Linked DNA regions of Homo sapiens. The protein of the gene in region 1 interacts with the protein of each later gene in a pairwise test. Each region holds a gene or a part of one and is shown in the gene's direction. Other genes may lie near its edges.

What was found. The genes of interacting proteins can lie anywhere in the genome.
Region 2: the proteins of DDX6 (region 1) and SLAIN1 interact in binary tests that used the Homo sapiens proteins (3 or more experiments, as listed by UniProt).

The regions. Positions count from the first base shown.
Region 1 is NC_000011.10:118,749,544-118,753,297, reverse strand, and holds part of DDX6 (probable ATP-dependent RNA helicase DDX6), read left to right. Parts: intron 1-1,200; 3' UTR 1,201-3,754.
Region 2 is NC_000013.11:77,749,662-77,753,415, forward strand, and holds part of SLAIN1 (SLAIN motif-containing protein 1), read left to right. Parts: intron 1-3,541; coding exon 3,542-3,697; intron 3,698-3,754. UniProt on the Homo sapiens protein: Microtubule plus-end tracking protein that might be involved in the regulation of cytoplasmic microtubule dynamics, microtubule organization and microtubule elongation.

The DNA.
Region 1 (3,754 bases):
AGCACTTTGGGAGGCCGAGGTGGGTGGATTACCTGAGGTCAGGACTTCAAGACCAGCCTGGCCAACCTGGTGAGACCCCGTGTCCACTAAAGATACAGAAAATTAGCCAGGCATGGTGGCGGGCGCCTGTAATCCCAGCTAGTCAGGAGGCTGAGGCAGGAGAATCTCTTGAACCTGGGAGGCAGAGGTTGCAGTGAGCCGAGGTCATGCCATTGCACTCGAGCCTGGGCGATAAGAGTGAAACTCTGCCTCATATATAAATAACCCACTCTGATTTCCTAGGTAATAAGAGTGAAACTCCGTCAAATACATAAATAAAATACCCACTCTGATTTCCTGGACAACCTGTCTTCCCATCTTTTTTTTATTTTTATTAAGATGGGATCTCACTATGTTGCCCCGGCTGGTTTCAAACTCCTGGGTTCAAATGATCCTCCCACTTTGGCTTCCCAGAGTGCTGGGATTATAGGTGTGAGCCACCACGCCCTGCCTCTATCATCTTTTGGTGACTATTGGGCTCTAGTTAGAAATGCATGAAACAAGGCTCAGCTTTAAGCAAGGTAGGTTGTTTCAGTATTTCCTAAAGAAAATCTGATTTGACAAAGGATAGTTTCCAAGTTATAGGTGAACATCTTACCTATTTAAGTAACCTAATGTTACTTAAATTTTTTTTCTCTTTCTTTTTTAAATAGAGACGAGGATTTACCATGTTGGCCAGGCTGGTCTCAAACTCCTGACCTCAGGTGATCCGCCCACCTCAGCCTCCCAGAGTGCTGAGATTACTGGCAGGAGCCACCTCACCCAACCAATTGTTACTTAAATAATTTTTAAATTACTCTGTACTCTTTTTTTCCTTAAGTTAAACATCAAACACAAACTCTTGGACAAGCATGAAACTAGCCAATGTTTGCTAGTACTTTGGCAGAGTATTCAGTTTGTGTAAGGTTAATTTTTTTCCCCCGGATTTGTTACGAGTGAGGGCTGCCTGCTATCAGAACATTCACATTCATTCAGGCCCCCAATCTATCTCAGGGTTGCCTACCAGAAATTATTTAATCCTATAACCAGTAGATTCTATAGTAGGCACAGGGTTAGTAGAAACTACTAGAAAAGAGCATTTGGGATGAGGATTGTGAAAACCTATGTATCCTAGTTTGTGTTGCTTTCAGAATGTTAATTTTGTATTCTCTTCTTCTGTAGGCTTTGACAAATTACAAAAGGCTCGTTTGGATCTGTGACACATCGTTTTGGGGGGAATGCTCCTCTCTTTGTGGGTTTTTCATCTTTTATTTTGGAACTATGAAGACTTAAAAGAGCTCAGACATTTTCTTTTTTTAACTGGTGAAGAGAAAAAGGCTGAAAAGAAGGAATATACCTTTTTTGTTCCACTTGTTTGCACTGTGTGCTGACTGAACATTAGTTGCACTAACTGCTGGTTTTTAAAAAATGTTTTCTGGGGAAAGGGGACAAGGAAGGAAAAGAAAGAAGAGAAGGGGAGAAACCCTAAAAAGAGAAGAATCTTAATGAACACACAAGCTTGTCAATGATTTCAAAATTCTCCAACAGCTGACTCTCGTGCATTTCAACTTCTCCCTGATTCCTCATCCGTTTTTTAAGCCTGAAGAGCTTATTACTTATTTGTGCGAAGTGCCTTATGCTATGAGACCATTCAGAATATCATCTTTTAGACACAGCCCGAGGAATCAACAATAGTAACTCTTTCTTTCCGTTTTTTTTTCTTTTTCTTTTAAAAAATGTCTTCTTATTTTGGTTTCAGGTTGAAGTCTCTTCCCTTTCTACCCAGTACTCGAGCCCAGGGCTAGAAGTTGAAACTCACTAGTAATGTTAAACACCATTTTTTTTTTCTTTTTGGGGAGGAGTTGATATGCAACTGCAGTTCATCCGCACTGTAAATACATGTATTTAAAAAAACAATCCCAAGTAAAAATTTCTTCTGGGCTGAGTAGATAAAAAACATCATCGCTCCCAAAGGAAAGAGCAGTCTATCATTGCAGGAGCCATATGACAAGCCTTTGTGCTCTATAGCAGACACTAAAGACTGGGTTACATATGCCTCCAGTAGTAGTATGGCACTTGATGTGTAGACATGTCAGAGCCTTGGCCCTCTTTCCTCTGTGGCAAAGCGTGTCCCATAGAAAATTGGGTGTGTATACTTGTATAACTTTGTAAATAAGTTTTTTTTCTGGGTTCATATATATATATATATATACATATATATATATTTTTTTTTGGATGAAGGTTGCTGGGATTAAGGGGATTAGAGTGATTATGGGAGCAGCTAAAGATGAGAGGGGCTCAGTTTTACGCAACACTAAATTCTAGAAAGTACTTTGGCCTCGTGCTGTAGAGAGCAGATTTCTATGGTACCCTGTGTTAGTAAAGGGGCCCAGAAATCTGGGATGTACTGTTTGCTGCCACACTGTCTCATCTAGTACCTTTGGAGTAGGTTTACCAGAGAGAGCAAGGAAGCTTCAAAACATTGATAATTCAACATTTATTTTGAGAAGCTCTGATTTTGCTTCTTCCCCCTTTCTAAAAGTTTGAGGAATATTTCAAGCTCTGCAACAGGGGGCAAAGATTAATCTACCTTGCAGTGTAGGAATTCTATTGAGTGGCAGTGTCATTGAGCAGTATATATATAAAGCACAGATTTGCATTTCAGAATATTAGCCAGTACCAGCTTTGGTAATGTTAGCAGTTCTGGAGCTTAATTTTCTGTGGATCATTTCCTGTAGTGTGTAAATGTGTTGCCCTCTGCCCGCTTTGATACATAAACTTTTGCAGGAATGGGCAACCTGAGAGCTGTTAACTTTCATGCTACAGAAAGCTGCTTGCCATTCTCTTGCATTGTGACAAGAATTGTTACCTGTCATTTTGCACTGTAAATTGCTGGCAGATGCTTTACAGTCAATAGTGTTGCTTTAAATTGTGCCCCTCCCAACATGCTTGATGTTTGGCCTGATCTCCAGGCAAAAGGAGTGAGATGAATCAAAACCAGTGAACTTTTTTTTTTAATGTTTTTAATTCCCTTTTAACCCAGTGTACTAGGTCAATCAGGAGGCATCTGGAAAGGGGGGGAAAAAAGCAAAAAACAAAATTAAAAAAAATTGATTTCCATATTTTATTTTTCAAAACCCTAAAATATTACAAAATAAGTCCCGCATATACTTTAATGTTTTAACTCTTTTGGACAAAGGAATCAATTACTTGAAGTTGCTTTTTTGACTCTGCCTACTTCTGAGCAAACTATTTGCGACTCACCCACAATTCCTTGGAGATCAAAATCCTACAGATGCCTCCTGATGGGACATAGCCCTAACTCCTTAACAACTGTAGCAAGAACTGCACGGTACAAACCCAAAAAAGAACAAGCTCATCTATTTGGAACCCAAGCCTCATATTTTCTGTCCAGTCAATGTTGGTTACTAAATAGAAAACCTAATTAAGGAAGTAACTTTTTTCCAGGGAGGGGTGGGAGAGGGAATTTAAAAGGTGTCAACTTTTGACCAAAAAAATTGTGCCCTTGTACCGATGCAGCTCTCTTTCTCCCCCACCTCTTGCGAGATAAGAGGGATCATTCATGTAGAAGAAAAGAGTATAAATGCAATTCTGTATCTCGCTAGAGAACGTGTGGGTGACTAAACAAAAAGTGCAGTCTCCTTCACCAACTTTAGACTGCGTGGTGCCACATGCCTGTGGGTCCCTCTTAAAGCACAGACTTAAAATGGAAAGT
Region 2 (3,754 bases), on another chromosome or scaffold:
TGAAGATAGAACTAGAACATTACTTTTGGTTCCCTGAACTTTAAAGAATATGTGGTTATTAAAACGTTCCACATTGTTTGACAGGAAATGTACCTCATTTCCAGATGGTCTGACACAAGTTGGAGATCACAGCTTTGTTCCAAGGGGAATAGTGTCCTAAATATTTACACTTGGAAGACCTTATTTTTAAGAGCATATTTCAGGATTAAAGCTTTGTGAAACTGACTTGTTGCTTAAATATGAGTAAAGATTGGTTTTAAAGACTAACACAGATTAGAGGCATAGCCAAATGTAACGTATGGACCTTGATTGGATCGTGGTTTAGAGGAAAAAGCTTGTGAAAGATATTCTTGGGATGTCTGAAAAATTTTGTATGCAGATTATCATATGATATTGTTAATTTGTTTACATGTGATTACAATATTGTGATTCCATAGAATTTTCTCAGGAGATCAATATGCATTTAAAGTGTCAAGATGTCTGAAGTTTTATCTTGTTTAGCAAAGCAAACAAAAGTACATGTGGAGATGAATTAAATATGGCAAAATGGAAACAACCAGTATAGCCAGGTGGAAAAACAGGTGTTTATGATACTATTTTTTAACATTTCTATATGTATGAAAACTATTATAGTAAATAGTTGGAGAGAGATTTTAAAAAGAAATATAGAAGCTCAATTAATTTTCTCAATAGCATATAATTATGTTCCTGTGCCTCCCTGCTGCTTAAAAATATATGTATTGGAAATATGTATAGTGAAAATAGTCTAGTACTGATAGAGGCTGTCTTTTTTACACCAGTTTTTGTAATAGTCAAAAGATCTAGATATGGCCACTAAGATTATGTAGAGATGAATCCTTCTAATTCCTCCCTTCTTACTACACACTGTCTGCCAAATCATACACATAATATTTGCTGATATATAAAGTACCTGCTCTGTGAGGCTGGGAACTTTAATAGGAATTTGGGAATACGAGACGTATGATTGTTAAAAATAGGCATCAAGAAGATAATGAGGAAAATTGCCAAGGAATCTAACAGTCAGTGGCAATATTTGAGCATCCTTACTCTAGAACTACACACAGAAAGTAATGTGTGAGAGGTAGATACTTCCAGCTGGGAAGTCCATAGAAAAGCTTCTCTATGGTGGGGATAATTGTGCCAATTCTTAAAGTATTAGTAAGACCCACATGAGTAAAATATTCTTTTGTGCTTTCTACCATAGCACTCTCTACAATTTTTTATGCTCTCTTATTATACATATTATCTAAGTATACTTATTGTGCTTGTTTAATCTTCTGCCTTTTCCACCCCAAGGGAGCAAAAATTGCTGGACATGGCAACATTTAATAGGTGTTAGTAATGTCAAAGGAGTAGTGTATGAAAGGGGAATAAGAAGAGCTGAGTTTGATTTTGACTTGAATGCCTTTTGGATTAGCATTCAAGTATATCATTATTTTCTGGTTTTGCTTGAAAGAAAATGACCACAAGATTGAATGCTCTGATATGTGCACTTTAGTGTTTTGCGGTATATATCAATAAAGATAAAAATATCTTGTAAGTTGGAGGGGTGAAAAAAATTTTAGATATTACAATGATTTATGATCTTCCATGGTTTACCCCTATCAAAATGTTAATCTTTAATATTTATTTTATTTGGGAAAAAATTTAATTTTAAGTTTAATTAAATTTATTTTAGATTTTCTCTTTAGGATCAACAATGGGTGGGGAAGGATTGAGAAGCACTGGTCTAGACTATAAACCTAGACCATAAATCTTGACTATAAACTCAATGAGACTCTGGACTGTATCTGCCTAATACACTGTGGTATCCCCAACAGCTCACAGAGTGTCTGGTATTTAGTGTAAACACAATAGATGTTTGTTCCCTTGTTCATTTGTTCCTTCTCCAAAGTGAGGTTGGGTGTCCACATGGAGGGACCAGCCTGCTCACAGGTATGAGAGAGTTCACCCCTGTGGTCGGGGAGCAGGCTGAGAGGCCAGGCTGGAGAAGTATAAAGAGCCTGGGCCTTGAAGCCCTCATCTGGGCTGTGCTCAGGAGCTTGGCCTTTCAGAAGAGGGAGCAGGGGAGGAATTGAGGAGTTGGAGGGATTTCAGCAAGTGGGTGACGCATGCTGTGCTCTAGGAAGAGTGGAATCGAGTACTTGAATTAGTTTTGTCCTTGAATTAGTTATGGCTTAGTACTCGTATATATGCTTTTTTTTTCAGTTTAAATGACCTGACATAGGTACTTTAGTTTTTGGGGGATGTGTATTGATCAAGGAAAAAGTGTCTCATAGAGTTGTGGTCTTGTGGCTGGCTTATTTCACATGTGTTATTTCACACATCTCAACATTGAGATCTGTATGTGACTCTCTGCTGCCTCTTGGTGGCAGAAGATGAACTTAGCAAGGCAAAAAAATTGAAGCATTCTCTTGGTCTTTTTTATCTGCAAACATTTGGTGGCGTACTCATGAAAGTTAAAACTTTCCAGAGATTAATGTGGTCATGTTAATGTGATGAGTGGATATTTCAAGACATCTGAAGTTTGAATTTTATTAATTTGTTCCATTTTGATATGGTAGCAAAAGATTCAGTAAATGTTGGTTTTGATTCTTCTAGGGTTCTTTTTTTTTTTTTTTTTTAAGAAGCATGTAACTTAATTTCTAGGGTTGTTTTGGTAAATTTAATGGCTATAAGATTATTTTCTAACTTTTTAAATATAGTTTTAGCCACTTATTGAATAGGAACAGATAGCTAACTGCTTAGCTAGTCCCTAAGTCTTTTTATAGAAGTTTCGTTCTCCTTTAACACATTGTATTAGTTAGGGTTCTCTAGAGGGACAGAACTAACAGGATAAATGTATATATGAAGGGGCATTGATTAAGGAGTATTGACTCACACGATCACAAGGTGAGGTCCCATGATAGGCTGTCTGCAAGCTGAGGAGCAAGGAAGACAGTCGGAGTCCCAAATCCTCAAAAGTAGGGAAGCCGCCAGTGCAGCCTTCAGTCTGTGGCCAAAGGCCTGAGAGATCCTGGCAAACCACTGATGTAAGTCCAAGAGTCCACAAGCTGAAGAACTTGGAGTCTGATGCTCGAGGGTAGGAAGCATCCAGCACAGGAGAAAGGTGAAGTCTGCTCCTTCTGCATTCTTCTGCGCTTTTATCCTAGCCATGCTGGCAGCTGATTAGATGGTGCCTATCCAGATGGAGGGTGGGTCTACCCCTCCCAGTCCACTGACTCAAATGTTAATCTCCTTTGGCAACACCCTCACAGACACACCCAGGAGCAATGCTTTACATCCTTCAATCCAATCAAGTTGGCACTCAATATTAACCATCACACATGCTTATTTGGTGGGAACCCTTCTGGTTGGGAAGGGTGTTTTCCTGTACAATAGGTTAGAAAGCTTGATCATCAACATGTAATAATTTGTATTTATTATTGAGCACAATATGACTTTTGTTATTTGCTTTTGAAAGCTAGTACTTTGGTTGCATAACATCTGTCATTTTTAACTTAGTAAAATTCTTTTCCAGATAAGCTCCGAAGAAGTATGCCTAACCTAGCCCGGATGCCAAGTACAACTGCCATTAGTAGCAACATTAGTTCTCCGGTCACCGTGCGAAATAGTCAGAGTTTTGACTCAAGCTTGCATGGAGCTGGAAATGGAATTTCAAGAATACAATCTTGTAGTGAGTATAATTATTTGATATAATTATATATTGTATAATTGTATAATTTTTTATAAT